Homo sapiens: one gene and its partner. The protein of the gene in region 2 interacts with the protein of the main gene of each other region in a biochemical or structural test. Each region holds a gene or a part of one and is shown on either strand. Other genes may lie near its edges.

Region 1 (3,656 bases), on a different chromosome or scaffold from region 2:
CCTGGTGAAGATGCGAGGAAGCTGGCTAGTGACAGGCCCAAAGAGGATGCACGGAATGATATTGACATTCTGTAAATCTTTGCTACCAGTGATGACTGGCACATTATGTGGTTGAGAACGGTGGTCAAAGATAATTGGTTTCTGTACCCATGGTATGAGAAAGTGAGTCCCTTACCCTACCACAATGTCCTGTACTCCACAGAATCGGTCAAAGATGACAGTTCTGTGCCCAGCATCCATGTTATATAAGGCAGAGTTCACCATGCCTTCTGCAACAGCTAAGGCCAGTCCAAACTTGCCGATGGACTCAAACACTTGGCAGCTATGTTTTCTTCTGTTGAACCCTCTCACACCTGTTTCCACTCTGAACTCCACATCTAATTTTTGTATTTTTAGTAGAGATGGGGTTTCACCATGTTGGCCAGGCTGGTCTCAAACTCCTGACCTCAAGTGATCCGCCCGCCTCAGCCTCCCAAAGTGCTGGGATTACAGTTGTGAGCCACTGAGCCCGGCCTAGAGGTCATATTTCAACATGAGATTTGGAAGGGATAAAACATCCAAACCATATCACTGATTTTGACAAGAGACCCATCAAGTAACTTTTTTTTAGGACAGGGATGATCAAAGAATGCTTTTGATAGAAAATGGTATTACTTCCTTCCTCCATCAGAAGAAGACAGGTGTGTCACATGAGCTGTCAACATTGGTGAAGCAATCACACAAGGGGACAAATGGTGTTACATAGGAGTGTTCACAGCCTCCCACCTCTCCTTGTACAGGAGACTCTCATAGATGTTAATCTAGCCTGACATTGCAGGAGGAGGCCACTCTGGAGGCCAAGCCCACCCCAAACCTGCTCTCAGAGAAGCTCCTGGTGCCCAAGCAAAGGTCCATAGGCCTTCTGGGGCCTATGAGGGATGGTGTAATTGCTCTGTCCCAGGGACAAGTAATTCCCTGGCCCATTTAGATCCTCTTCTAGTGAGTCTGGATGTCAGACATACAGACAGAGCTAAGTTATAAGGTCTGCTGGCTGGACTGCTGCCCAGGGGGCTGCCATATTCAAAGACACCAAAACATTATTGGAATGAATCAGAAATCAGGTGAATTTTAGATTGCCTCCTTTCCTACCAAAGCAGTCATCACCCTGAGGTGGAGACTTAAAACACTCCTTGACAATGCAGACTAGTATCTGTACGGTGCTCAGGGACACTCACATGCCTGTCACACAGGGCCACTCCAGCCAACCCAACCCTGAGGACAGCCCATTGAAGTTGGCAGACAGAGCCAGAAATGGAAAAATATGTGGTGTAGGGCTGTTTGCAAGGAAGAAATGTACTGTTTTATTATGTGAACACTTAAACATGCCTTCCAAGAAGTTGTGTGGTTTGGAAAATTACACAGAATAAATTATTTATTTTGACCATAAAGAACATAGTACACATTTAAAAGAACATCACTTGCCAACAAGCACATGAAAAAGTACTCAACATCGTTAATCATAAGGCAAATGCAAAGGGAAACCATAATGAAACATCACTTTATATTCAGGATGGCCGCTATCACATAAACAGAAAATAACAAGTGTTGGCAAGGCTGTAGACAAATGGGAACCTTGGACTCAGGTGGTAGGAATGTAAAAATGGTGTAGCCATTATAGATAACAATATGGCAATTTCTCAGAAAATTGAAATAGAATTATCATATAATTCAGCAACCATTTCTGGATGTATATCCAAAAAGAACTGAAATCGGGGTCTTGAAGAGATATTTGTACACTGATGTTCACAGCAGCACTATTCGCAATAGACAAAATGTAGAAGCAACCCAAATTTCATCAACTGATGAATGGATAAACAAAACATGGGACATACTACAATAGAATATGAGTCAGCCTTAAAAAAAAGGAAATTCTAACACATGCTACAATACGGATGAACCTTGAGGACATTATGCTAAGTGAAATAAGCCAGTCACAGAAAGACAAATATGAGGTATAGTAGTCAAGCTCATGGAAGCAGAAAGTAGAATGGTGGTTGCCAGGGGCTGTGGGGTGAGGGGAATGGGAGTTGTTTAATGGGTAGAGTTTCCATCTTAAAAGATGAAAAACCTCTGGAGATTGGCTGCACAACGATGAAAACATACTTCACATTATTGAGCTATACACTTAGAAATGCTTAAGATGGTAAAATTTGTTATTTGAATTTTACCAGAACTAATTAATTTTTCAATCCTGCTCCTTCTGTATATTTTACAAATTAAAAAAAGAACATCACCAAATAAATGTTGATCAAATATTTAAATAATATTTAAATTGAATTTAAATTGAAAAGGAAGCCAAAATAGTAGACTGGTTGGGGTGCCTCAGTCCTGCCCTGTGCATGGCAGCCACAGTGCACTCAGAGAGAAGGCAGGACAGGGAAGCTGTGAAGCAGGAAGGGCCCCGAGGAAACAGAAGTTGTGAGGAGGAGAAGCAGCAGAAAGAAAGGAAACAAAGGAAAGTAACATCAATAGTTGATATGGTTTGGCTGTGTCCCCACCAAAATCTCATCTGGAATTGTAGCTTGCATAATGCTACATATGTGGGAGGGACCTGGTGGAAGGTAATTGAATCATGGGGGCGGTTCCCCCAATACTGTTCTCATGGCAGTGAATAAGTCTCATGAGATCTGATGGTTTTATAAGGGGAAACCCCTTTCGCTTGGTTCTCATTCTCTCTCTTGCCTGACACCATGTAAGACATGCCGTTTGCCTTCCACCATGTTTGTGAGGCCTCCCCAGCCACATGGAACTGTGAGTCCATTGAACCTTTTTTTCTTTGTAATTTACCCAGTCTCAGGTATGTCTTTATCAGCAATGTGAACATGGACTAATACAGTAGTTAAAAGCACTACAATCAGGAAGAAAAAGATAACCATGTCAATTAAAGTGCATTTGATCCCAACCTGAGTTCTGAACTACATTTTAATCTCTAGGAGGTCAGGGCCCTGGCAATTGAGATTTTTGCCTTCCTTCTCTCCCATGCCTGCTTCAGAAGTGCCCCCGTTTAAGGTAACCTGGAGCCTGTGCTTACAATCTAAGAGAGTGATGCTCCAGCTTTCAAGTACATACAGATCACCCAGGAGCTTATGAAAATGCAAATTCCCATTCAGTAGGTCTGTGGTGGGTCTGAGCTTCAGCATCTCACAAGCTCCCAGGTGAGCTGATGCTATGGGTCTGCAGTCCACACTTGCAGTAGTAGCAGGGAAATCCAACTAACCAGACAGAAAATTGGCAGTACACAAACAGACTGGCATGGAGAAGATGATCTTGTCAATAAAAACAACTTTATGGTGCTAGGAAATAAAATAAATAATCAAAGAGATATGTGAAATGACTCACATTATAAATTGTTGTTTAAAGTCAATATACAGGCCGGGCACAGTGCCTCACACCTGTAATCCCAGCACTTAGGGAAGCTGAAACAGGAGGATCATTTGAGGCCAGGAGTTCGAGACAAGTCTGGGCAATACAGTGAGATGCCATCTCTACAAAAAAATAAAAAATTAGCCAAGTGTGGTGACATGTGCCTGTAGTCCCAGCTACTTGGGAGGCTGAGGCAGGAAGAACACTTGAGCCCAGGAGGTCAAGGCTACAGTGAGCCATGATTGTCCCACTGC
Region 2 (3,656 bases):
GCTGCCATGAGCCACTATCATGCCACTGCACTCCAGCCTGGGCAACAGAGAAAGACCCTATCCCCCCCCCAAAAAAAAAAAAAAGAAAGAAAAGAAAAAGGAAAAAAAAAAAAAAACAACTAAGGAAACTGTCAACTTCTGAGGTGTGATGATGGGATGGCAGTTATGTTTAAACAAGATGACCTAATCATTTTTTAAGCTGGGCAGTAGGTATATGACAGTTAACTTCCTTACAATTGTTTGTTGTTTTTTAAAGTGGGGACATTATGCTCCATGACCAAAAAATAATCACCATCATCATCCTCCTCCTTCTCCAACTACATCCTAAGGAATGGAAAAAGAAACTGTATTTTCTCAGATTCTGAGGTGGGAGAAGGACAATAACTAACACACTAACTGATTTACTCACAAACATATTGTTATGGGTTGAATCGTGTGCCTTACCCACCCCCAAAAAATTTCGTACATTGAAATTCTAACCTCTAGTTCCTCAGAATGTGACCTTATTTGGAAAGGGTTATTGCAGATGTAATTAGTGAAGATGAGGTCCTACTGGAGTAGAGAGGAACCCTAATCCAATATGCCTGGTATCCTTATAAAAAGGGGAAATTTGGCCACAGATATGCACACAGGTAGAACACCATGTGAACATGAAGGCAGAGATCCGGGTGATGCACCTACAAGCCAAAGAATGACAAAGATTACCAGCAAACCACCAGAAGCCAGGGGAGAGGCATGGAACATACAGTTTCTCACAGTAGTCAAAGAAACCAACTCTAACAATGTGATCTAGAACTTCTAGTCTCCAGATCTATGAGATAATAAATTTCTGTTGTCTAAGCCACCCGGTTTGTGGTACTTTGTTGCAGCAAGCCTAGCAAACGAATGCACACATATTCTATACTTTGAAGAAAAAATTCCCAGAGAATCATATTTAAAATGGTTAAATTAAGCAAAATAAAACAAACCAAAAAAAGGAAAGTCCCAACTACCTGAAATATTTGTCTTAGGTAACTGACTTAAAAATAGCTAATACAGTCAATTGCCACTGGGTTTAGTTCTTTACAAGATAGTACAAAAATAAAAGATGCTTGGCTGGGTGCAGAAGCTCACACCTGTAATCCCAGCACTTTGAGAGGCTGAGGTGGGTGGATCACTTGAGCCCAGGAGTTCAAGACCAGTCTGGGTGACATGGCAAAACCCTATTTCTATAAAAAATACAAAAAAATTAGCTAGGCATGGTGACACGTGTCTGTAGTCGTAGCTATTTGGGAAGCTGAGGTGGGAGAATCACCTGAGCCTGGGGAGGTCAAGGCTGCATTGAACTGTGATCGTGCTGCTGCACTCCATCCTGGGTGACAGAGTGAGACCCCATCTCAAAATAAAATAAAATAAAGATGCTGGAGAGGATAGACCAGAGATCTTTGAACTGCTAATAAAAATAATGTTTCTGTCTGCTCTGAGATTTTTCTTATTCTAAAAAAATATCAAGCGATCCTCCTGCCTCAGCCTTGCAAGTAGCTGGGACTTACAGGCACAAGCCGCCACACCCAGCTAACTTTTAAATGTTTTGTAGATATGGAGTCTTGTTATGTTGCCCATGCTGGTCTTGAACTCCTGGCCTCAAACAATCCTCCCACCTTGGCCCTTTAAAGTTTGGGGATTACAGGCGTGAGCCACTGCACCCAATTATACACTTTCATGTATACTTACCAACAGAGGTTTAAAGGGGGGCTCCACCTTTCGAGCCAGAAGTTCTTCCCAGTTAATGTGTCTAAAGAATGGATGAGCCTAGGAAAAAAAAAGCAGGAAGAAAAGTTGAGGGGACTAGACTTTGCTGGATTGATAAATTAATCACCTTTTTGAAGTTACAAGTCACAAAATAAGCTAAACTTATAAGCAACTACATATAACCCTCAGAAATACATAAAACTAGCATTATCTTCCCCACAAAACACCAAAGATGCCAATCCCTACTTGAACTTCTCCAGCGTCCCCAGGACCAGCTCCCAGACGAGAAGCAGCATTTCTTTTCAGCAGCTTTAAAGAGGAAAAAAAGCTTGGATAAAGAACCTTAGTCAAACTGATTTTTTTTTTTCCTTTTTAGACTGTGCTTGTCTACTTTGGCTTGAGAAAATATAGTTTATTGGCCAGGCACAGTGGCTCATGCCTGTAATCCCAGCACTTTGGGAGGCTGAGGCAGGTGGATCACCTGAGGTTGGGAGTTCGAGGTTGGCCAACATGGTGAAACCCCTTCTCTACTAAAAATACAAAAATTAGCCTGGCGTGGTGGTGAACACCTGTAATCCCAGCTACTAGGGAGACTGAGGCAGGAGAATCACTTGAACCTGGGAGGTGGAGGTTGCAGTGAGAGCCAAGATCATGCCATTGCACTCCAGCCTGGACGACAGAGCAAGACTCCATCTCAGAAAAAAAAGAAAAGAAAAGAAAAGAAAATATAGTTTACTAATTACTACTTAATATTGTTTAAGGGTCTGTAATCCCAGCACTTAGCACTTTGGGAGGCCAGGGCAGGTGGATCACCTGAGGTCAGGAGTTCCAGACCAGACTGACCAACACGGTGAAACCCTGTCTCTACTAAAAATACAAAAATTAGCCGGGCGTGGTGGCGGGTGCCTGTAATCCCAGCTACTTGAGAGGCTGAGGCGGAAGAATCGCTTGAACCTGGGAGACTGAGGTTGCAGTGAGCCAAGATCGCACCACTGCACTCTAGCCTGGGTGACAGGGCAAGACCCTGTCTCAAAAAAAAAAAATTTAAAAAAAGAATATGAAAAGAAAGTCTTTAAACAAATCTGTACTTCGCCTTCAAAAATTGAAGACTTTTTTGTTCAATATTTATATATGACTCTTTATTCAAAATATACATTAAATTCTATCTAGTTAAATCCTAGTCATTGAATCTTGTAGTGTCAGTGACCATTTAAGAACCTTACCTTTTTAAGCAGATCTCTGGCTTCTTGTGTGAGGTAGGGAGGCAAATTGAGTTTACATTTGAGGATTTTGTCAATTGTTTTCTTTCTATTCTCCCCAGTGAATGGGGGCTAAGAGTAGAAGACAAGTGAAAAATATTAGCAGGGAGAGAAAAATATTAGCATATAAGAAACAAATTTTGAATAATATTATCCATTTCCTAAATTAGTTATACATGGAGATCAGAAATGTATGCTGTGAAATGGGCTAACTGCTAAAGACCTTTATTTTGTTTTACAGACAGGGTCTCAACTATGTTGTCAAGGCTAGATTCTATTAATAATCCTTAGCTCAAATGATCCTCCCACCTCAGCCTCCTGAGTAGCTTAGGCTACAGGCATGCACCACTGTGGCCGGCAGACGTGCAGTTTTTAAGCAACAGGACAGAGGAAGTAGCAGTGTCCTGGAAGGAAGCCTGTGTTTCCACCATTAACTTTCTGTGTGATAAGTGAGCTATGTGATTTTATGCTTCAATTTCTCCATTTATAAAATAAGGGCATTATCTATTCAACATCTATTTCACAGGCCTGCCATGACATAGATCATTTAAAAGAAAATGTTTCGGAAAGTATGGGATCCCATATAATCATACAGCATTATTAGTGTTAAACTGCTAATAACAAATCTTTGGGCTTTGAAAACTCCACTGGTAACATGTTCAGAAA

The links.
Region 1: of the proteins of RPS6KB1 (region 2) and NR1I2, one has a biochemical effect on the other in vitro, tested with the Homo sapiens proteins (one study listed by BioGRID).

What each region holds. Positions count from the first base shown.
Region 1 is NC_000003.12:119,788,491-119,792,146, reverse strand, and holds part of NR1I2 (nuclear receptor subfamily 1 group I member 2), read right to left. Parts: intron 1-3,656. UniProt on the Homo sapiens protein: Nuclear receptor that binds and is activated by variety of endogenous and xenobiotic compounds.
Region 2 is NC_000017.11:59,934,599-59,938,254, reverse strand, and holds part of RPS6KB1 (ribosomal protein S6 kinase beta-1), read right to left. Parts: intron 3,063-3,656; coding exon 2,955-3,062; intron 2,041-2,954; coding exon 1,978-2,040; intron 1,792-1,977; coding exon 1,714-1,791; intron 678-1,713; coding exon of another isoform or gene 629-677; exon of another isoform or gene 481-628; intron 1-480. UniProt on the Homo sapiens protein: Serine/threonine-protein kinase that acts downstream of mTOR signaling in response to growth factors and nutrients to promote cell proliferation, cell growth and cell cycle progression.